Regions from separate parts of the Homo sapiens genome. Here region 1 is linked to region 2. Evidence: fine-mapped expression QTL. A gene starts in region 2. The other region holds a variant in brackets. All regions are shown on one strand. Distances are from middle to middle. Region 1 overlaps FBP2 (fructose-bisphosphatase 2). Region 2 holds the start of FBP1 (fructose-bisphosphatase 1).

The links. PIP is the estimated chance that this variant, and not a neighbour inherited with it, causes the effect.
Region 1: its variant is the best candidate, but not a certain one, in a credible set for the expression of FBP1 in lung (TOPMed, PIP 0.57).

Annotation. Positions count from the first base shown.
Region 1 is chr9:94,580,766-94,592,866 of GRCh38, forward strand. It overlaps FBP2 (fructose-bisphosphatase 2), which reads right to left. Exons shown (of 7, transcript NM_003837.4): 2 at 6,542-6,704; 3 at 3,812-3,904. Among named protein-coding and RNA genes, the nearest start is that of FBP2, 7.0 kb to the right of the region's middle. RefSeq lists enhancers at 6,746-7,247, 7,248-7,747, 10,526-11,068. The variant A/G (reference allele first, on the strand shown) is at 7,623.
Region 2 is chr9:94,633,160-94,645,260 of GRCh38, forward strand. It overlaps FBP1 (fructose-bisphosphatase 1), which reads right to left and starts at 6,359. Exons shown (of 7, transcript NM_000507.4): 1 at 5,982-6,359. The coding sequence starts at 6,151. RefSeq lists a silencer at 6,433-6,492.

The DNA.
Region 1 (12,101 bases), 52 kb before region 2:
CTCTAGTCCCTAAAAAAGGCCCTTATCAGGTACTATTAACAAATCCTTGTGCAGTTAAGTTACAGGGCTTTGACTCCTGGGTGCACATATTTCATCTAAAGAAGGCATTGGCTCCTGCCAGTATCTGATACCAAACTCAAGCTAACCAAAGCCTTGTCTCTGGATCCAGGCAAAGGTGACAATCAAAGTCACCTGCTTTAATGAGACACAAGGACAGCCTTGTAGTCAAAACCAGTAAGATTAATTTATTAATTTTGCCTCTGTCTAAAGTAATATGATTTATTCTATGCCTTAATACCAAATAATTAAAATGCTTAACTACCTATAAGCCTCCTTTCCTGTCATTCTCAGAACTAGGCTGGGCTTATGATACTTTAAAACATTACTAATTCTTTGTATTTTGTTTTACCTCCAGAATTGAAACTATTCAATCCCCCAGGCCTAAAGACTATAGTGGAAGAAGTGAGCGTCTGACATAGTAAGGGCCAGTCTTATGGGATCAAATTAATTCAGAGCCTCCAAATCCAGGACGGACACAGAGAGGCTTCAACAGCTGAACAAAAGGCTTGTGTTTTGTGCAGCTAAGTGCTACTAGCCAAGCTCACAGTAGCTCGATGTATAGATTTGTAGATAAGTCAATTTTGGAAGCTTGCCTTTTGGCTTTGGGTTTTTGGCTTTTACATTGCTTAAAAGGGGTTTTAAGGTTAATGAATGCCTGGCCACCTCCATTCCCATCTGGCCTGGAACATTTAACTGGCTTCCACTGTTTTGACTCTAAGTCCCTGGGCCATAGGGGTCCCATCGAGGAACATCATGGACCCTGGGAAGGTAACCATACCACCCCAGCATCCACATGGGACAAAATAAAAGCTTGGCCATCAATACTGCCCCCGGAATACCTTGACAAAAAAGGGAGAATATAAACTAAAATAAAATCCTAAGCCTCTCAACAGACTGAATGGACCTGCCTCTTGGCCGAAGGAAATCCCCAGATAAACTGAAAAACAAGTTCAGGCCATGGCAGGAAGCGGGATCAGACAGGCCTCCCTATACCTTCCCCCACTTTTTGGAATTAGGCACAACTGAAAACCCTAAGATTGACAAAATAGGCTGTTTGTCACAATAAAATACCCAATTAGAAACGGGACCTAAGGCCACGCCAGGCAAGGGTTAGTCACTCACTCCTATTTTGAAGAGGAAACCATGTCCTAACTGCCATAGGTTTTTCTTTTTCTCTAGCAGCCAAACAAGCGCTGGCCTTAAGATCAGCTGACTAACTCACCCCCAGGCTCTTGTTCCACCAGCCAAGACTACAGCTTTAATTAGACAAAAGACTAAATTTCAGTAGCTCTCCTGATAAAAGACCACCAACCATGGGCTAGGTCTGGCCAGTTTACAGAAAGCACACACTGTGTGCCTTTATGTCCTAGAAAGATCTTTTGATATACAGGACCTAAATGGAATACATTCCACCCCAAAATAAACATGGGTCATACATGCATATTTATTCAATACACATATGTCAGGACCATCTTCATAAATATTCATAGCTCCTCCTATAATCTGTTAAATATGTGTGTGTGTGCGTGTGTGTGTGTGTGTGTGTGTGTGTGTGTGTGTGTATAGTTTGTTTGTTTTGAGAGGGAGTCTTGCTCTGTTGCCCAGGCTGGAGTGCAGCAGTGCAATCTCAACTCACTATAACTTCCACCTCCAGGTTCAAGCAATTCTCATGTCTCAGCCGAGTAGCTGGGACCACAGTCACATGCCACCACTCTTGGCTAATTTTTTTTTTTTTTTTTTGAGACGGAGTCTCGCTCTGTCACCCAGGCTAGAGTGCAGTGGCGCGATCTTGGCTCACTACAAGCTCTGCCTCCTGGGTTCACGCCATTCTCCTGCCTCAGCCTCCCAAGTAGCTGGGACTACAGGCACCCACCACCACGCCCGGCTAATTTTTTTGTATTTTTAGTAGAGGCAGGGTTTCACCATGTTAGCCAGGATGGTCTCGATCTCCTGACCTCGTGATTCGCCCGCCTCGGCCTCCCAAATTGCTGGGATTACAGGCATGAGCCACCCTTCCCAGCCCCCTTTTTTTTTTTTTTTTTTTTTGAGACACAGTTTCACTCTTGTTGCCCAGGCTGGAGTGCAATGGCGCAATCTCAGCTCACTGCAACCTCTGCCCCCGGGTTCAAGCAATTCTCCTGTCTCAGCCTCCTGAGTAGCAGGGATTATAGGCGCCCGCCACTATGCCCAGCTAATTTTTGGTATTTTTAGTAGAGATGGAGTTTCACCATGTTGGCCAGGCTGGTCTCAAACTCCTGACCTCAGGTGATCCACCCACCTCAGCCTCCCAAAATGCTGGGATTACAGGCATGAGCCACCATGCCCAGCCTGTTAAATATGTATATTTTGCCAACCTGTTGTCAAGCCCCACAGGAACCCCAAATATAATTGACAGTGGGGACCATGAAGTATAAGTAAAACTAAGTGCTGTACATACTTCCTGAATAATGCCCAAAACATACCCTCAGCCCCACAAGACACAGAAAAGCAAACTGCTACTATGTCTTAATCCCACAATGTCTTTAAATCATATGGCTTTAGATATCCTAACTACAACCCAAGGCAACACTTGTGCATGAATTAAGGCTGAGAATTAGATATCTACCAGATTATTCTCACAATATAACCCAAACTATACAGGCCTTAAATACTCATATTTCTGCCATAGATTCCCTATCTCAAGACTCTGTAAGAGCACGGTTTAATCAACTTCCTAATACATAGAAGACTCTCAAATACAATGTAACTGGCACTCTGCTTATTTTTCTCTTTGGTTGCTATGGATTGTTTGTTTGAGAGAGTCTTGCTCTGTCACCCAGGCTGGAGTGCAGTGGCATGATCTCAGCTCACTGCAACCTGCACTTCCTGGGTTCAAGCAATTCTCTTGCCTCAGCCTCCTGAGTAGCTGGAATTACAGGCGTGCACCATCACCCTGGCTAATTTTTGTATTTTTAGTAGAGACGGGGTTTCACCATGTTTCCCAGACTGGTCTCGACCACCTAGCCTCAAGGCCTCAAGTGATCCGCCCGCCTCAGCCTCCCAAAGTTCTGGGATTACAGGCGTGAGCCACCGCAGCTGGCGAGGTTGCTATGGATTTTATTGCCGTTGTACACTTTATATAGAATGAAGGACAAGTTTTCTGAATTGTGAAGTTTCTAGTCCTGCTGGATGTCACAAACCCACCCAGCTCTCTGTTGCTAGGATTTCAGGGTAGGCAGAATGGCCCAAAAGATATGCCAGTCCCCAGGATCTGTGAATACCCAGCATTACATGGCAACAAAGACTTTTCAGGTGTACTCAGGGGTTCAGATTTCAAATAGGGAGATCACCGTGGACCTTCCAGGTTAGATTAGTTCAATCTAATCCAATGAGCGTTAGCAGAAAACTTTCTGTGGCTGGGGACAGGAGAGATGAGGCAAGAGGGGGAGAGGATGTCAGAGATTCAGAATGCCACCTGGAACCTAATGCCATGTCTGACATTTGTGTTGCACCCAGACTTTCAAAACAAGATCTCAGCTGTCCTTCTGTGTTACCCTCCCAGGAATGCCAGAAAGTAGGCAGAGAAAGAATCGCCAATCCAGTTCTTCTAATGAGGAGCCCCAGGCAGAGAAAAGTTGGTGGTTTGCCTACAGTGGCTTTTCTCGTTAGTGGGAAGACAAAGGGTAGGACTCCAAACACACGGTTTTCAGCCCAGGAACCTTCCAGAGACCACCACAGGAAGGAGGTGTAAAATGTCAGCCTGTCTACTCACCTTTCTATAGATGGCAAAGATGGTTCCGATGGAGGCCAGGCAGTCAATATTGGAAGATCCATCCAGTGGGTCAAAGCAGACCACGTATTTCCCCTAAATCAGAGAGGAAAGCACCAACTGATCAGCACATCTTCCCATTAGCACAATTGCTCTGTGTCAGGGCTGTGCGTGGCAGAGTACACCACATCAAAAAGAGATTGAGAACCACAGCATATCTTTATCAAAAAACACCATGACTTACGGAGGGCAGGGTGCCAGTTTATACACAAATACTCCTCTGGGTTTTGTATCCATCTCACCTGTCTGATGCGAAGACCAGAAGATAAAGTGGGTGTGTCTTGAGAGACCAACGTCCCCCACACCCACCCACTCTGCTGTCACAGGCAGCTCAAGCCACCAAGGGAAGCCCCAGGTCCTTTTTATAGCCCCCTGTGTGCAAGGTCACGAGAGACCCTTAGTGATGGCGACCGGAACCCCCAGGCCAATTAAACACGGGTAATGCAACTTCAAGAGAAATGAGGGTCATTTCTCCCTCCACTTGATTTAGTTTTCCCTGACTTTCCAATGAGTATTGGCCTAGCTTCATTTGAGCTTTGTTTCTGTTTTTTTTCCTTGCTCAGCCAGAGTAGAAAAGTTAGATAATTTGTAAACTTGGAAATTCCCCAACATCTCTATAATAATCCAATTTTTTAAAAAAAAATCCAATTTAGCCCATTCATTCATGCATGCATGCATTCAGCAGATACATGTTGAGCTTCCAGCATATGCTGGGAAGTAAGTGTTCAAGGCCCTGGGGTTTGTTTCCGGGGGGTCAGCGATCCCGGCAGCAAGGCTGGATTTCATGGCACTGACATTCCAGTGGGAGAACAGACAGAGAGCACACAGGTCAGGACACATACAAGCAGGCTGTGGCACGTGCCCTAACGAAAACCCACATAGGCTGGGGGCTGGAGAGCCATGAGGGGGGGTCACATTTGATGACAGACCTGACTAGAATTAAGGAATGAAGAAACACACAGAGACCTAGAAAGCAAAATTGTTTGTTTTCTTGTTTTTGTTTTGTTTTGACAGAGTCTCACTCTGTTGCCCAGGATGGAGTGCAGTGGTGTGGTCAGAGCTCGCTGCAGCCTAGAGATCCTGGGCTCAAGCAATCCTCCCACCTCAGACTCCCAAGTAGCTGGGACTACAGGTGCACACCACCATGCCGAGCTAAATTTTTATCTTTTGTATCTTTATGTTGCCTAGGCTGGTCTCAAACTCCTGAGCTCAAGCAATTCTCCCACCTCAGACTCCCGAGTAGCTGGGACTACAGGTGCACACCACCATGCCGAGCTAAATTTTTATCTTTTGTATCTTTATGTTGCCTAGGCTGGTCTCAAACTCCTGAGCTCAAGCAATCCTCCCACCTCAGCCTCCCAAAGCACCGGGATTGCAGGCGTGAGCCACCGCGCCCATCCTAGAAAGAAGAATTTTCGACAGAGAGATCAGCAGGTTTGGAGTATTCAAGAGCTGCCACGGGCCAGGCATGGTGGCTCACGCCTGTAATCCCAGCACTTTGGGAGCCTGAGGCGGGTGGATCACCTGAGGTCAGAGTTCAAGACCAGCCTGGCCAACATGGCGAAACCCCGTCTCTACTAAAAACACAAAAATTAGCGGGGCATGGTGGCGCATGCCTGTAATCCCAGCTACTCAGGAGGCTGAGGCGGGAGAATTGCTTGAACCCGGGAGGCAGAGGTTACAGTGAGCTGAGATTGCGCCATTGCACTCCAGCCTGTCCAGCCGGGCAGTAGAGCAAGACTCCGTCTCAAAAAAATAAATAAATAAGTAAATAAATAAATAAAGGAACTGACATGAAGACCTATGTGGCTATGTGGCTTAGGCCAATAGGAGAAGACAATGGTAGATCAGACTGGAGAGAGAAACAAGAGTCATATCAACTGAAACTGAAAGTTGGAAGTAATAGTGTGATGTAGCTAAAATTATGTGAGACGAGGGCAAAAGTGCCTTTTGCAGTACCTGGCATAGAGCAGAGGTTAAATAAATTTGGCTTTACTTTAAATTCTTTTCCATTCCTCCAGCTAATCACAAAGAAATGGCCTCTTGTCTATTGACTATATTGCAGCTGAACATTGATTGAAACTTTTGGCCATTGGCAAACCTCTCTGTATAATAAGCTGTGTGTGAACCCATAGTGAATGCAGACCCTCCCCAGCCGTGCCTTCCTTCACCGACTTCACCATCCTACGAGGTAAGAGCACAGGAGGCTTGTGGTTTTGTTTCTGGACCAGTCTAACAGCTTGTCAGGCACTAAGAAATCTCTGCTGAAACTGTAACCCCTCGCAAAGTGCCGGCTGGGGGCGGGGGTGGAATGAGAAGGCGGGGCGGTGAGAGGCTGTACAGTACAGCTCTTCCCTGGACTCCACAAGGTTAAGCCCCCAAAAATTTGGCTCTTGTTACTGATTAAGTGAACAGCCACGAACAAGCGCCCACTGAGGCGGTTCCTGCATCACTCTGAACAATTTCCTGAATGAATCACTGTCCTACTGTGGAGTCTTCTTTCTCTAGACAGCACAAGATTTCCAAGTAGAGAAGTATGTAATCCTTTGTTTCCAGAAAACAAATGTTAAGAAATAGAGGAGAATCCCGGGAATTAAAGAAAAGTAAGGCAGCTTATTTCCGGCTCAGTATCATCATCTACTGGCGAGCGGGCACCGCAGCCCCATGACGCACCCGCTTCTCCTTGGCGGTGATGATGGCGTCCTTATTCTCTTCTGAGACCAGGACGCAGGTACTATAGGAGGATTGGACCATGTTGATCACCAGGGAATTGGATAGCACATCCAGTTTCTTCACCTCATCTCCCGTCACGTTAACGCTTCCTGCGATTCCATACCTGAGAAGACAAAAGGCTGAATGAGGAAGTCACTAGGGGGTCTTAACTCCAGCAAAGAGCCTGGGACCCTAAAACGCCAGCAGTGCAGTCCCCTCTCGTTCTGTGTCTCTGGAGTCTCCAAGTCACACGTGCAGAAGAAGGCGATTATGCCTGGCAGGATACCTCTCAGCCTTGCCTCCCTTACACCTTGGAGTCGTTGTCATATTTTCTTAGCCTTCCAATGAGATGACCCAGGACTCAGTCTCACTAAAACACAAACCCAGTCTCAGCACGAGGAGATGGAGCAGATGGGGGGACTCATCAAATCAGACCCATTGCCATAACTGAGGACTCCAAAAGTAAAGGACTGTGGCCTCCAGCTCCTGGAATTTGTTTTTTCTTTTTTCCTTTTTTTTTTGAAACGGAGTCTTGCTCTGTCGCCCAGGCTGGAGTGCAGTGGCACGAACTCTGCTCACTGCAAGCTCCGCCTCCTGGGCTCACGCCGTTCTCCTGCCTCAGCCTCCGGAGTAGCTGGGACTACAGGCGCCCGCCACCACGCCCGGCTAATTTTTTTCTGTATTTTTAGTAGAGACGGGGTTTCACCATGTTAGCCAGGATGGTCTTGATCTCCTGACCTGGTGATCCACCCGCCTCAGCCTCCCAAAGTGCTGGGATTACAGGCATGAGCCACCATGCCCGGCCAAGCCCTGGAATTTCAAGTCTTTGTGGATTGTCCTCACACAGTGCCCTGCTGGAATGAATTAAAATTGCCCTGTGGTAGCTTGGTGTTACTTGAACTGAGAAGGAAATGTGGGGGCAGACTTATTTCATTTTTTTCTTCACTGCCATCCCAAGCAGTATAAGAGAGTGCTACTACGAGAATTCTATGCCAGTCAGGGCCAGGGCCTCGTGCCTGTAATCCCAGCACTGTGGGAGGCC[A/G]AGGCGTGTAGGTCGCTTGAGCCCAGGAGTTCAAGACCAGTCTGGGCAACACAGTGAGACCCTGTCTTTACAAAAAAATACAAAAATTAGCTGGATGTGGTGGCACACACCTGTAGTCCCAGCTACTTTGGAGGCTGAGATGAAAGGATCATCTAAGCCTGGGGAGGTGGAGGTTGCAGTGAGCTGTGATCACGCCACTGCACTGCAGCCTGAGCGATGGAGGGAGACCCTCAAAATAATTCTATCTAGAGGCTTTGGGTTTTAGAGCATTCATATGCAAAGGTCTCCCCACTTCCACCCTCGCCCCTTCAGGGGGTTCTCAACACACCAGCAGGAGGGGTCCTCCTAAAGTGCCCCCAGTCTTACCCAGAGGCAAAATCCAAGTCCCCGCAAGTGGGTGTCAGGCACCACCGTGGAATCTCTGCGCCCGGGTTGGCATGGCTGCCCGTCTCTCTCATCCTCACAGGGTCAGCCCCAGCCTCTGAAACCTCCAAGGCACACACCTGCCTTGTGACTGACTGCCCAGTGGCCTTGCTGCCCCACCTGGGACACTCTTCCTCAAGAGCCATGTGACGGCCACCCCAGTCAAGCTTTGGCTCAAGGATCATCTCTCAGTAGTGCCTTCTCTGGCCGTCTGTTTGGAGCAGCATTCCCTGGTCCCCAACATCTTACTCGATGCATTTTCTCCTCTGCCCTGACCACCATCTAGGTCCTGTTTATTGTCTGTGAGCTTCCACAATGGCAGGATTTTTTTTTCCATTCTGAGGGAAGCCGTATCCTTCATGTGTCCACCCTGCACCACTACAGCAAGGCTCAGCCACCCCGCCACCCTCTCACGTTCCAACAGCCGCAGATGTCCCTGGGCCAGCACCCAGCAAGCGGCTCTGGTCCTTCTCGCCTTCACTAATGGTGTTCCCACCACAGCAGTGCTCTCTGCCCGGCTTTCTTCCTGCTATTCCTCCTTTTCCTCTCTGGGACGCCTCCCTGGTCCTCTCAAGTGGGCCCCACACACCAGAAACACCCCATCATCCCTCCTCAGTGTTCACCACACTCACGGACTGGCTTCCTGCTGCATGACCTGCTTGCAGAGGGCAGGATCCATCCTTCTGTCTGTTTCTGCAGTGCCCAGACACACAGCCCATGCTCCATGTCTGCTCACTGAGTTATGAGGAAAGGATGGCAAGAAAGGAATTTCCTTTGCCTACTGATGTGAATGCTATTTATTTGTTGAAGGAAATCTCAGGTGGTTCTAACAGGTAGCCAGGGTTGAGAACCACTGATCTACCTTAAGCTGGGGGCAAACTCATTTCCCACCCTCTTCCCTGAACAGCACCCCCACCTCACCCCCCAACACCAACCCCCACCCACAGCACATCATTTGGTGTCTGAGGAACCATGACGTGAGCAGTCAGCTGTCTTGGAAAACACTCCTAGCAGCCTCACCCCAAAGACTGTGCCTCCTGGTCAAGACAAAAGCAAGCAAGCAACAGCAGCAACAAAACTAGGCTGACTGCATCTGAGTTTCAGGGGACCACAAACACAGGCCTTGGTTCGATATGGAATCTGAATGCGCTTGCCACTGGAGGATGAACAGCAGGCCCAGGCCTGCGGTGGGCAGAGCTGAGAAACAGCCTCTGTCCTGCGCTTTGCAAATGCCCCCTCATCCGCCTAACCCCACCCCTCAGCCGACCCCCTGCACCCTCTCTCCAGGCACTGGGCAGCACCCCTCCTCCTAGAAAGAATGGAAACTCACCAGGAGATGTGAGTTCCCGGCAATAGCTTCACCTGAGATGATGGGGGAAAGGGGCTCTCTAGCCCGTAGGACAGTATCTTGCAGTGTTCTGACTGACACTAAAGCTAACTAACAGTCTCTAAAGGAATGATCCCCCACGGCCATGAGAAAGCCAAGGAGAGGCTCCAGGCGGGCACTCCAGCCTCTCTTGTTCCCACCATAAGAAGAGGAAAGAGAAGGGGAAAAGGAGACTCTCATAACTTTTAAATTGCATTCACGGAGCCCTTGCTAGAAAGATCTCCCCAAAAGGAGCCAGGGGCTTGCGGTCCCCTGCCTGGGTGGTGGTGTGTCCGGAATTGGTAGGTTCTTGGTCTCACTGACTTCAAGAATGAAGCCGCGGACCCTCGCGGTGAGTGTTACAGCTCTTAAGGTGGCGCATCTGGAGTTGTTCGTTCCTCCCAGTGGGCTCGTGGTCTCACTGGGCTCAGAAGTGAAGCTGCAGATCTTCGCGGTGAGTGTTACAGATCATAAAAGCAGCGTGGACCCAAAGAGTGAGCAGCAGCAAGAGCGAAAGAACAAAGCCTCCACAGTGTGGAAAGAGACCCAAACGGGTTGCCGATGCTGGTTTAGGCAGCCTGCTTTTATTCTCTTATCTGGCCCACCCACATCCTGCTGATTGGTAGAGCCGAGTGGCCTGTTTTGTCAGGGCGCTGATTGGTGCGTTTACAATCCCTGAGCTACATACAAAGGTTCTCCACGTCCCCATCAGATTAGTTAGATACAGAGTTTCCACACACAGGTTCTCCAAGGCCCCACCAGAGCAGCTAGATACAGAGTGTCGATTGGTGCACTCACAAACCTTGAGCTAAACACAGGGTGCTGATTGGTGTATTTACAATCCCTGAGCTAGATATAAAGACTCTCCACGTCCCCACCAGACTCAGGAGCCCAGCTGGCTTCACCTAGTGGATCCCGCACCGGGGCTGCAGGTGGAGCTGCCTGCCAGTCCTGCGCCGTGCGCGCGCATTCCTCAGCCCTTGGGTGGTCGATGGGACTGAGCGCTGTGGAGCGGGGGGTGGCGCTCGTCGGGGAGGCTCGGGCCGCACAGGAGCCCATGGAGTGGATGGGAGGCTCAGGCATGGCGGGCTGCAGGTCCCGAGCCCTGCCCCGCGGGAAGGCACCTAAGGCCCAGCGAGAAATCGAGCGCAGCGCCAGTGGGCCAGCACTGCTGGGGGACTCAGTACACCCTCCGCAGCCACTGGCCCGGGTGCTAAGTCCCCCATTGCCGGGGGCCAGCAGGGCTGGCTGGCTGCTCGGAGTGCGGGCCCGCCAAGCCCACGCCCACCCGGAACTCCAGCTGGCCCGCAAGCGCCGCACGCAGCCCCAGTTCCCGCTCGCACCTCTCCCTCCACACCTCCCTGAAAGCTGAGGGAGTGGGCTCCAGCCTTGGCCAGCCCAGAAAGTGGCTCCCACAGTGCAGTGGGGGGCTGAAAGGCTCCTCAAATGCCGCCAGTGGTCATTGACGGCTCAGGCACAGGCAAATCTGGTCTGGGCTTGGAACCGCGGTAGTGACAGGCACTGTGCGTGTCTTACGGGGCCGGCACAGTTGAAATCGTCATCACATGCGCTCGCTAACTCTGCAACAACCCTAAGAGTTAGGGATGCTACTATACTCTCCATTTCACAAAGGGAATCTAAGGTCCTAGCAAGAGTAAATCACGCCCATTATCACACGGTAGGAAATGCCAAATTAATAAGCACCTCAATTATCCAGTTCCTAGGGCCACTTTGTCTCCTTGCTCAACCGCCATAAAGTCAGAGTTTTGCAGCAGATAAGCAAGACCCCTACCATGGCAGCCACTGCCTAGCCAAGAGCCCTGCACAGAGGGGGAGCCCAATTTATGTGGATGAATCACCCTGAGATGGACTCAGGCAACCGCATTGAGGATAGCAGGGTCCGCACAGGGAGAGGCAAAGTCCCTGTCTACCGTCACTCAGCAGGGCTGTCACCCACAGGAGCAGAACAGGGCACCGCCTGCCCTCACATTCTGGAAGGCGATTAAATGCAGAGCGTGGCTGTTATTGCCAAATGAGGTAAAAACAGAGCTGAAGCATCCACCCACAGGAAAAAAGCAAGGATAATGCACCGTTAACCTGGGTCCTGCTACTGGGTCACCACCCCTAAATAAATACAGTCTGTGGTGATCAAATGATAATTACATCTTGTAATCTAATGCTATCACTTTTTGTGTTAAAAGCACTTAATTGCTCAGAGTAAATATTTTAAATGATTGGACTTTGTTAGCTCCTCATTTTGAGTCTCTTTCATCCCCAAAATATGTGTTCCTTCAGCTCCTGAGAGGACCTCCCCTGGAATTACTACAAGGGAAGCCCAAAGAAAGCTGGGGTTTTGTTTGTTTGTTTGTATGTTTTGAGATGGAATCTCGTCCTGTCACCCAGGCTGGAGTGCAGTGGTACGATCTCGACTCACCGCAACCTCCATCTCCCAGGTTCAAGCGATTCTCCTGCCTCAGCCTCCCGAGTAGCCGGGACTACAGGCGCCCGCCACCACACCCAACTAATTTTTGTATTTTTAGTAGAGACAGGGTTTCAACATGTTGGCCAGGATGGTCTTGATCTCTTGACCTCATGATCCACCCACCTTGGCCTCCCAAAGTGCCAGGATTACAGACAGGAGCCACCGTGCCTGGCCACCGGATTCTTTTTATTACAGACTTAAACTGGAC
Region 2 (12,101 bases):
GCTAGGACCAGCGATTTCAGAAACTCCCTCACAGCCCTTCTCATCTAATCCATGCTCAGACTTCTTCCAAATCCTTCCTCTCCCCTCCAAGGCTGCAGCTCTGCTGGCTACTCAACTGACGGCTCCCCCTTGCCACTGGTTTTCCCATATCCTATCTTTCGCTCTTCCGATATACTTCCAGCCACACCTTCTCCAGATTTGTCTCCAGTCACGCAACTGCCCCACTCAAAAAACTTTCAAAATCCTTGATCTCTCCTTTTCTATACCCCCAAAAGTGTAAAGTGTTCACCCTTGCCATTTGATGCTTCCCCAATGTACCCACAATTTCACATCCACGAACGCCCTACCATGAGTACTCCATGCTTTGGTCAAATTGAGTGGGCAACTTTTCCAGAAACACTTTCCCACCTCAGGACTCCTCCCCCTGTGACCTCCAGCCTGAACTGCGGTCCAGCCGCCGGGCCTTTTGCTTCCCCTGCACGTGCCCATTCTTGGCGCTCCACAGTCCTTCACCATGAATCGTATTTTTGGCACCTCTATGAAAGCATCTTTCTTTTTTTTTTGAGACGGAGTCTCCCTATGTCGCCCAGGCTGGAGTGCAGTGGCGCGATCTCGGCTCACTGCAAGCTCCGCCTCCCAGATTCACAACATTCTCCTGCCTCAGCCTCCCAAGTAGCTGGGATTACAGGCGCCCGCCACCACGCCCGGCTAATTTTTTTGTATTTTTTGGTAGAGACGGGGTTTCACCGTGTTGGCCAGGATGGTCTCGATCTCCTGACCTCGTGATCCGCCCGACTCGGCCTCCCAAAGCGCTAGGATTACAGGCGTGAGCCACCGCGAAAGCATCTTTCAGACCGGGCGCAGTGGCTCACGCCTGTAATCCCAGGACTTTGGGAGGCCGGGGCGGGCAGATCACCTGAGGTCAGGAGTTTGAGACCAGCCTGACCAACATGGAGAAACCCCGTCTCTACTGAAAATACAAAAAAATTAGCTGGGCTTGGTGGTGGGCGCCTGTAATCCCAGCTATGGGAGGCTGAGGCAGGAGAATGGCATGAACCCGGGAGGCGGAGGTTGCAGTGAGCTGAGATCGCCCCACTGCACTCCAGCAAGGGCAACAGAGCGAGACTCTGCCTCAAAAAAAAAAAAAAGAAAGAAAAAGAAAGCATCTTTCAAAACCTCTATTGCGTGTTAGAACGATACAAATATTTTTTCCTACAGAGTAAACTCTGTGTTGTTCTCGTCTTCTGGAACTTTGTACATGGTGGATGTTCAGTAATATTTTGTTAATTGAATGAAATCAGTGAATTCTTCAGTCAGTGATTTGGAAATGGATACAAAGGGAAGTCAACTCCACAAAACAAAAAACCTGAAGCCACTGGAGCACCACTTTCTCCCAAAGGAATGCAAAGTGGACAACACTCGAATTTGACATTTGAACCACAACTTCATCAGCTTGACTTCAAGTTGCAGACTGTTCTGATCTGCACAGTTTCTCTCCCAAGAGTGGATGGAGGGAGCCAGAAGCCCAGAGGGAAGTCTCCCAGGGCACATTTGCCCAAAGCAATGACTCCTTGGTATCTAAGCCTGAATTCACATCAAAAATGTCGCCTGGCCAACATGGCTAAACCCTGTCTCTACTAAAAATACAAAAATTAGGCCGGGCGCAGTGGCTCACACTTCTAATCCCAGCACTTTGGGAGGCCGAGGCAGGTGGATCACTTGAGGCCAGTTCGACCCTGGTCAACTTGGCAAAATCCCATCTCTACTAAAAATACAAAAATTAGCCAGGTATGGTAGTGTACGCCTGTAATCTCAGCTACTCGGGAAATTGAGGCAGGAGAATCACTTGAACCCGGGAGGCAGAGGTTGCAGTAAGCTGAGATTGCACCACTGCACACCAGCCTGAGTGAGAGTGAGGCCCTGTCTCAAAAAAAAAAAAAAAAAAAAAAAACCAGTTAACTAATAGATGAGATTTAGAGTTTGGTGAATTCTAATTGATTTCTAAAAAATAAAGGAAGAGATGTGTAGTGTGGCCAAAAGACCTCCAATCCGGGGTTCCTGAGATCCCGGCCACAGGCCAAGTCATCTCATCTTCCTCGGTCTCAGGGTCCTCTTCTGTATGAGGAGGTGATAGACTAGCTGACTGTTGAGTCTCTTTCAGTCTAAAACTCAATGATTCCATGAACATTTTAACAGGAGCAATGAAAGTGACTACAATAGCAACTTTAGGTTACACCAGGCTCTGTGCTTAAACTCCTGATGTTTCCATAATGATCCTGGGTGAGCTCCCTAAACTGGCTCCAGTGAGGTTCCTGCAAATCTGCAATCACCCCGTCCCTCTGGGTACATGCTCTTCTAGGTCCGGTCTTCAGCACTAACAAGATCTTTGCAGGAATGCTGGTTTTTCTTTCTGGATTTCAATGCCTGGAATGAATGTAGGTTGGGGGCCTGGCTTGAGAATCATGCTACCTGCCTGATGACATGTGATACTGAAAATGGCCAAACGCTGAACTTCCCACAAGATCACCTCAGTGTCCAGCATCTAGTCCTGTCAGCTACCCCAACAACCAGGCATGCACACCAGTTCCAAGGGTACAGCACTGTAATACCCAAAGGCTAGTAAAAACCAAAGTGCCCCAAAATAGAGAAAAACTTCAATACCTCATGATGTGTGCAGGGGAGCAGCACACAGCAGTTAAAAGGAGGTAGATGTAGATGTCCCGATATTAATGGATGTTTCTTGAATAATGTTAAATAACAAAGCAAACTACAGAAATGTGTATTGTGATCCCATTTTGTCTGCTATTATAGGCATATGTAAATATGTGTTCATGTGTAAACTTATATGACTGTAAAAGAGTATCCGGAAAAATAAGCAGTAAATTATTTGCAGTGGATACCCCATGGGATATATATGGGGTGGGTTTCACTCTTCCCTTGAATTCTTTTGAATGGTTTAAATTTTTGTCAATGAGTGCAACATAGTATTTCTTTAAAACCTGGTATTCACAACTATCTAGTATAAAAGTACACATATTGGCCAGGCACAGTGGCTCATACCTGTAATCCCAGCATTTTGGGAGGCCAAGGTGGGCAGATCGCTTGAGCCCAGGAATTTGAGACCAGCCTGGGCAACATAACAAAACCCCATCTCTACAAAAACACAAAAATTATCCGGCATGGTGGCACATGCCTGTAGTCCCAGCTACAGGGGAGGCTGAGGTGGGAGCACCAATTCAGCCTGGGAGGTTGAGGCTGCAGTGAGCCATTATCACACCACTGCACTCCAGCCTGGGCAACAGAGTGCGACTCTATCTCAAAATAAATAAATAAATAAAACGCATACCTTACGTAGCCAAAATTAACATGCTTCATCCAGGCCCCACCATCAAAATCTCACTATCCAAGGTCCCACTGTCTAAGGTTACTTAGACAGTGGGACACCTCAAAACACATCTTACATTTCTCAGTCTCTCTAGGGGTGTGAAAGGTACTGACACATTTTTTAAACAATATCAGACATGACAAGCCCTTTTTTTTCTTTTTTTGAGACAGAGTCTTACTCGGTCGCCAGGCTGGAGTAGAGTGGCACGATCTGGGCTCACTGCAACCTCCGCCTCCCGGGTTCAAGCAATTCTCCTGCCTCAGCCTCCCAAGTAGCTGGGATTACAGGCGCCTGCCACCATGCCTGGCTAATTTTTGTGTTTTTAGTAGAGACAGGGTTTCACCATGTTGGCCAGGCTGGTCTCAAACACCTGGACTTTGAGTGATCTACCCGTCTCAGCCTCCCAAAGTGCTGGGATTACAGGTGTGAGCCACCACACCCAGTCGACAAGCCCTCTTTTTAAAATATATCCCTGGTCCTCAAAGGCAGTTAAAGCTGTGAGCCACCTATACTAGCTGTAAATTAAAGCTTAAGATTTCACCTGGGTATGTTTCTAAAATAAGAATCCTTAGGAATGTATTATTAAGAGGGGCCAGAGGCAACAGTAATGGAGTCATCACCTTCCTTAACATGTCTGCTTAATATTCAAAAATAAATGTGATCATACCACTCCTTTACATGAATTACCTCCACCAGTCCATACTGTGGGACCAAAGCCAGACAGCCTGCCAGTAAGAAAAGGAATCTAGATTGCAGGATGCGGGGCGGAGAAGAGTTTTTAAGAATGGAGAAATGCATTCCAAACCCAAGTAGCAGGGTTGTATTTGTTCAGGTCAGCTCTGAGCATCATGCGTCTTTTTTTTTTTTTTTTAAGACAAAGTCACGCTCTTGTCGCGCAGGCTGGAGTGCAATGATGCGATCTCGGCTCACTGCAACCTCTGCCTCCTGGGTTCAAGCAATTCTCCTTCCTCAGCCTCCCGAGTAGCTGGGATTACAGGCGCCTGCCACCACACCCAGCTAATTTTTGGTAGAGACGGGGTTTCACCATGTTGATCAGGTTGGTCTTGAACTCCTGACCTCAGGCAATCCACCTGTTTCGGCCTCCCAAAGTGCTGGGATGACAGGCTAGAGCCTACGCGCCCAGCCCATCATGTGTCATTTTTATAGTGTGCATAAGTGCGGGGAATGTTAGTAAAGTGTATGGACAATCTGAAAACCCAGTTACACTTCAGTTAAAAGTGTGGATCAGTTAGCTAGAAAATACCTGCGCACGGCGGCTCATGCCTGTAATCCCAGCACTTTGGGAGGCCAAGGCATCACCGGAGGTCGGGAGTTCGAGACCAGCCTGACCAACATGGAGAAACCCCGTTTCTACTAAAAAAAATTACAAAATTAGCTGGGCATGGTGGCACATGCCTGTAATCCCAGCTACTCGGGAGACTGAGGCAGGAGAATCGCTTGAACCTGGGAGGCAGAGGTTGCGGTGAGCCAAGATCGCACCATTGCACTCCAGCCTGGGCAACAAGAGCAAAATTCCATCTCAAAAAAAAAAAAAAAAAGAAAAGAAAAAGAAAATACCTGTGCACACCAACACAAACGAAAGGATGTTGTGTGACTTACAAAAAACCTCACAAGAAGGGGTCCTTTGAGTCTCCACTCCACTTGACCCCTTGCTACTCACAATGTGATGAGTAGACAAACAGTATCTGATGGGCAGCACCCACCACAGGAGAACTTCTTAGAAATGCAGAATCTCAGGACCTGTCCCAGAGCTATGGAAGGAGGGCACACATCTTACCAAGATCCCCAAATGATTCCTGTGCCCAGTGACGTTCGAGATGCACTCCATAGCGCATTCAGAACCATTCTACAAACCACTTTTGAGCTTTCCACTAATTGGGCAGAGGCTGCACACACCATCATTGCAAATCGATAGGGGTTTTGAAGCCCTGGGTGTTTCCTGTTTCTGGCACAGCATGGCAACTGTCCCAGCAAGGGGCAGCCCACGGGAGCTCCTTTGCACACAAGCCCTGCTGCTCCTAAAGGCTCTGGACACACAGGAGACCTCCCAGCCTGCTTGCGGGGGGGGCGGGGGGGACACTCGCTCCTAACAGGTCTTGTTTCAGGTCAGAGATAACTGGATTAGAAACCTGACTTGGGTCCCTAATTGCAGAAAGAGTGAAGGAGGACAAAGAAGAAATGGGGAAGGAAGGCACCTGAGCTAGCACTTTCCTGTCTGAGGCTAGGGCGGGTATGACGGGCAGGCCAGGTGCCCACACTTGGCCGGCTGAGAGGGGTACGAGGCAGGCTGCTCAGGGCAGAGAAGAGGAATGCAAGATGGAATCAGGTGTACACCTGTGAGACGGACCCCCAGGTGGGCCCCTCCAAGGTCAAGGGAGGAGATGAGGACTTGAGTGAGGCTGAGCCAGCTTCTGGAGAGAGGGGCTACCAGACAGAGAGCGAGAGAGGCGCTCAGACATCAGACGGACAGACAGAGGCTGACGGCAGGAGGCTCAGAGGGCCCAACGTCAGCCCGCCGGGCAGGCTCCCCAGGCAGACAGACAGGACGGGGCCCACCGCCCAAGGCCCGACTCACAGGTGCGCGATGCCCGCCTTGCGCACCGCCGAAGAGATGGCTTTGACTGCTGTGCAGAGCGAGTTGAGCAGCTGGGTCAACTCGCCCGTGCCGCGGGCCTTCCTGCCCTCCTCCATGACGAAGCGGGTCAGGGTGTTGACGTCCGTGTCGAAGGGCGCCTGGTCAGCCATGCTTGAACCGGGTAGAGCGCGGGGCTGCAGGTGCAAGCGGCAGGTGCGGGGCTGCAGGTGCGGGCGGCAAGAGAGGGCAGTAGGCACTGGCCGCAGGTGCGGAGCTGCAGGTGCGGGCGGCAGGTGCGGGCCGCGGGACCTGGCGGGAGGACTGACAGACCGACTGCCGCCCCGAGTGTCCGCAGCGCTCGTGGTGCAACTGGGCCAGGCCAGGCGCCGGCGGGTGAATCGCGGAAACCTTTAGACGCGGGTCGGCCCCCCGCCCCCGGGAACACTCTTGCGCCCCGCCTACCCCGCGGACCAGACCGCGGCTCCGCCTGCTTGGATCTTCAGACAAGGTCGGGGATCCTCCCTGCGGTCTCCCAACCCCCGCCCCCACGCGCCCTGCCGCCCCCTAGTCTTCCTGGGCTGTCGCCCCCCACACACACCCCTCCGTGCCCTCCACCCGCACTGTGGAGCGGGACTCGGGCCATCGGACTCTGCCAGAGAGAAAGCTATGACTGTTTCCTCCAAAATCATAAAACGGAAGTTCAGAAAGGTTAAGTAACTTGCTCAATGCCACCAGCTAGGCAGCGAAACCCGCAGCCAGTCCACATGGCCTGGCTTTAGCTCTGCAGCTCCTGCCCCGTGTGGCTGCCTGCCCCCGCCCCCTGCCCAAGCCCCGTCCACTCTGCCTGGCCTGTCACCTGGCCCTTCTGTCCCCGCTAGGAGACACAGAGTCCCCGTTTCTCACCCATCTGAGGGCCCACGTCTGAATCCTTAATCCAGGCCTCTTCTCAAGATTCCTAGAATTCGAGAGCTATTGAGTATTTGAATTTCCAAGATGTGAGTCTCGCCCGGAAGTTTCCCGGAAAACGGTCGCTGACACAGAGTCCTCGGCTACCACACAAAGGCCAGAGGGCTCCACCGCCCGCATCCTGACCCCCTGGTAGCCACAATGCTGCAATTGATGTGCTGATTCACGAAACAACACCTATTGAGCACCTGCTGTGCTGAACACTGTCCTACCTTCCAGGGGTGGAGCCTGATCCAAACAGACAAAACTCCTGCCCTTTTCGAGTGTACGTTTTCACAGAGAAACAGTAAAAATAAATATATAAACAATAGATTAGTTTGTTACATAAGCCATAAGTACCATAGAGAGAAACGAAATAGAAAAGGAAGACACGGAATGTGGAGGGGAGAAGAGGGTGAGCAGAGGCCTCAGTAAAAGCTTCTCTGAGAAAGGGATATGTGAGCAAAGAGGTGAAGGATGCAACGCGCCGGTGGAGATGGGAAGGAGAGCGGTTTCCTCACCGGGAGAGCCAGTGCACAGGCCCTGGGGTAGGAGACCATGTTTCAGGTTCAGGGAATGGCCAGGAGACCGGTGGAGCTGAAATAGAGCTAGCAAGGGTCAGAGGTGGAGGAGATAAGGCCAGCGGGAGGATGCAGAGGTGAGGTCTAGAGGGCCAAGTGAGGTTTGACTTTGACTAGGAGGAACCCACTGGAGAGTTTGGAGAAGAAGAGAGGCATGGTCTACCCTGTGTCTTCATACTGCGGCTACTGTGTGAAGATCAGACTGAAGACAGTGCCCTCCAGGTTACTAGGAGATAGTGAGCCAGGTGTTAGCAGTGGAGGTGGTGGATTCTGGACATATTTTGAAGGTAGAGCTGATGGGATTCGTTGACAGATGAGATATGTGAGAGACAGGAGTCTCGGATGATTCTAAGGTTTGAGGCCTGAGAAACTAGAAGAATGCAGTTGTCCTCGACTGCGATGGGGAACACCGAGAGGGGCGTGTGCTGGAGGCAGGACTGACAATTAGGAGCTAAGTGTGGGACCTGCTAAGTTTGAAATGCCTTCTAGACATCCAAGGCAATGTCAAATAGACAGATTTATGTATCTGGAGTTCAGAGGAGAGATCCATGCTGCAGGTATAAATTGGAAAAGCCAACTGGAAAAACCAACCAAAAACCAAGAGATGTGACATCCGGGAAGCCAGATGAAGAAGGTAAGTAAAGGCGGGCTGACCCATGTGCCAAGCGGTGTGGATGGGGCAGGCAGGACAAGCTCTGAAAATTGACTGCTGGATTCACCGTGGAGACCTGGGGTGCAGATTCCTGTGCCCAGGGTTGTCAGATGCGGCGGCGTTGAATGAAGGAAGGTGGTGGTACCACCAGGAAAGACAGCGACTGTCTCCTCAAAGCCCCAGAGGGGACTTAGATGCCTGGCAAAGAGAGTTGATCCTTTAAGGGTCTTATTTAACTCTTTGTTCCTCAGGCAACTTTTCAGGAAAAACCCTGTGTTAAAAAAAATAGTAAGAGAAATACATCCTTAAACATAAAAACTCAAATAGGCCCGGCTCACTGGCTCACACCTGTAATCCCAGCACTTCACTTTGGGAGGCCGAGGCGGGCAGATCACCTGAGGTTGGGAGCTCGAGACCAGCCTGACCAACATGGAGAAACCCCGTCTCTACTAAAAGTACAAAAATTAGCTGGGCATGGTGGTGCATGCCTGTAATTCCAGCTACTCAGGAGGCTGAGGCAGGAGAATCGCTTGAACCTGGGAGGCGGAGATTGCAGTGAGCAGAGATGGCACCATTGCAGTCCAGCCTGGGCATCAAGAACAAAACTCCATCTCAAAAAAAAAAAAAAAAAAGAAAAACAAACAAACTGGAGGCTGAGGCGGGCAGATCTTGAGGTCAGGAGTTCAAGACCAGCCTGGCCAACATGGTGAAACCCATCTCTACTAAAATAAAAAATTAGCCGGGCATGGTGGTGTGCACCTGTAATTCCAGCTACTCAGGAGGCTGAGGCAGGAGAATCGCTTGAACCCGGGAGACAGAAGTTGCAGTGAGTCAAGATCCTGCCGCTGCACTCCAGCCTGGGCAACAGAGCGAGATTCAATCTCAAAAAAAAAAAAAAGAACTGAAATGTGATGACTAGTATTTTTGGCATAGTAACTAGTTACTAGGGGAGAGCTAGAGCTAGTAACTAGGGGAGTGTGCCCCTTTACTTGCCAGACTCTCAGTCCCTCAGGATCTTGGATTGGCTAGGACCGTAAAAGTCATCTAGTCCAGCCAACCCTCATTGGACACCATCCCTGATAAGAGGTGAAGAGCTTGGGATCTGCATTAAGCAAACTTGTTTGAGTCCCAGCTCCAGCCCTCAGCAGCCAGAGATCTCGGACCAGTTACCTAATCTCTGTAAACCCAGTTTGTTCATCCATATAGTGGAATAATGGTTCCATCTGGCAGTGGTGTCATCGGGCTGAAATGAGATGGCATTGGCAGAGTGCTTAGCTCAGAGCTACACACAGGGGACACACTGAATACGTGGAGGAGACCCCTGTCTAGCTCAGTCACTTCTGCTTGTCACCCACGATGATGGGCAGCTCATTGCCTACAAGGCAAGCCATTCCCCTTGGGACTAGGCCACGTCGCATTGTGGTGAAGTGCACAGACTCTGGGGCTGCATGGCTTGGGTCCAAACCCTGGCCTGGCCACTTACTGGCTGTGCAAGCCTGTGCAATTGGCTAAACCTCACCAAGCAACCATTGGCTCATCTGTAAACTGGGGCTAATGATTGTAGCCACCTCATAGGGTTGCTGGGAGAATTATACAGGCAGTGCTGGTAGTGTTTAAGAACAGTGCCCAGCATGTAGTAAGTACACAGTATGTAAGTGTTTGCTTCGTTACATGGGTAGGGCCAACTGTTGTTTTCATGTGAACAGAAGCAAGAAAGTTCCCTGGCCATCAAAAGGGGCTAGAGGGATGTGGGAATTGGCAGCTGAGCCTGTATTTGCCTGGTGTGCAGTGATATCCCCTCCATCATATTGGTCGATTGTGACTCGCTCTTTTCTGGGTCAAGATGCATAAAGCCCATCACCCAGGTATTAGCAAGAGACAGAGGAAGGCGGCCACCTCACATGGGTTCCTGGCCTGTGGGTTGGGCCCCTCCCTCCTCCACCCACCACCCTCGCAGAGTTGCTTCTTGCCACATACTCCAACTTCACATGGGATTGCAGATTCAAGTGATGTGAGCAGTATTACCACATGTGTAACACTCGAAATCCTGCGAAGAATCAGTGCTCATGCATTTCCTCACCCAGCTCCCACGATGGGGTTATGTTGGAGGCGGGCAGTGGAGAAGTAACAGTGTGGACAGTCCCTGCCCCTACAACAGCCGCCCTCAACCCAGGGCTCCACTGCTTACTTTCCCCTCTGTGGGGGCGGTTAGTGCCACAGGAAAGAAAAACAGGCCAGGCACAGTGCACACACCTGTAATCCCAATGCTCTGGGTTGCCGAGGCAGACAGACCACTTGAGCCCAGGAATTTTAAAAGCGGCCTGGACAACATAAGGAAAACACTGTCTCTAAAAAAATTTAAAAATTACCCAGGAGTGGTGGCGCATGCCTGTAGTCTCAGCTACTGGAGAGGCTGAAGGAGGAGGATCACTTGAGCCCAAGAGGTCGAGGCTGCGGTGAGCCGTGATCACAGCACTGCACTCCAGCCTAGGCAATAGAGTGAGAGTGTGTCTCTAACAAAAACACAAAAAGAAAAACAAAAGCCAAGTGGTGTATGTGAGAGGGATTGCAGTAGCATGGTCCTTCCTTAAACACCTCCCCCAGCTCCTGTGGCCCCGGGGGCCTGGTGTGGAAACTAAACAGCAAACATCTATTTAGCACTTGCTAAGGGTGTGGCACTTGCCCAGGGCTTCAGAAGCAGCCTTTAATCAATCCAGAACCACTCTGGGGTGGCTTCTAATCAAACCCCTGTCTTTACAGATGAAGGGACTGAGGCTTTTCTTTCTTTTCCTTTTCTTTTCTTTTCTTTTTTTTTTTTTTGAGATAGAGTCTCACTCTGTCGTCCAGGCTGGAGTGCAGTGGCATGATCTCGGCTCACTGCAAGCTCCGCCTCCCAGGTTCACACCATTCTCCTGCCTCAGCCTCCTGAGTAGCTGGGACTACAGGCCCCCGCCACTTCGCCCAGCTAATTTTTTGTATTTTTAGTAGAGATGGGGTTTCACTGTGTTAGCCAGGATGGTCTCAATCTCCTGACCTCGTGATCCACCCACCTCAGCCTCCCAAAGTGCTGAGATTACAGGCGTGAGCCACTGTGCTTGGCCCAATTTTTGTATTTTTAGTAGAGATGGGATTTCACCATGTTGGTCAGGCTGGTCTCAAACTCCCAACCTCAGGTAATCTGCCCGCCTCGGCCTCCCAAAGGGCTGGAATTACAGATGTGAGCCACCACGCCCGGCCAACAAGGTCAAATAACCTGTCCAAGGCCTGCAGCCAGGCAGGAAGTGACAGAACAAAGACTCAAACCCTCATCTGTCTGATTCCAAACCCCATATTCCCACTGACTTGCTGGTTCTTTCCTAAGTGGCAGTTTCCCTCCACGTCATGCCTCCAGGGACAGGCAAGGCTCTGAGCCCGCCTACGGCAGCTCTCTGGACTCTAGAGCTATTTCTGGGCTCATGTTCATTCATTCTTTCACTCAACACATAGTTTTTGAACACCTGCTGTATGCCAAAACCATACCACACCCTGAGGTTGCAGTGGTGAACAGGACAGACACAGCTCAGTCCACTTTAGGTTTATATTCTTTGTGGGGGAGATAAGAAAAAAAATCATTTAACCAACAAAGACACAAAACTGTTTCAGGGAGCAGAGTGCTATGAAGACTGTAAAGCAGGATGAGGTAAAAACTCAAAGCCTTTCTTATGAAATGACTTTTGATCAGAGACTGAACAACAGAAAGGAATGGGGCAAATGAAGAGCTCATAGAGGAACATACAGAAGAACAAGCAAGGCTACGGCAGGTGCAAAGACCCTGGTGCATTCAAGGATCAGCTGGGAGAAGGCCAGTGTGGCCTGAAGGGCAAGTGAGGGAAGAACCACAGGAGATAAAGTTGGAAAGAGAGACGAGGGCAGATTATGAAAGGCCTCACAGCAAGTCGCTCA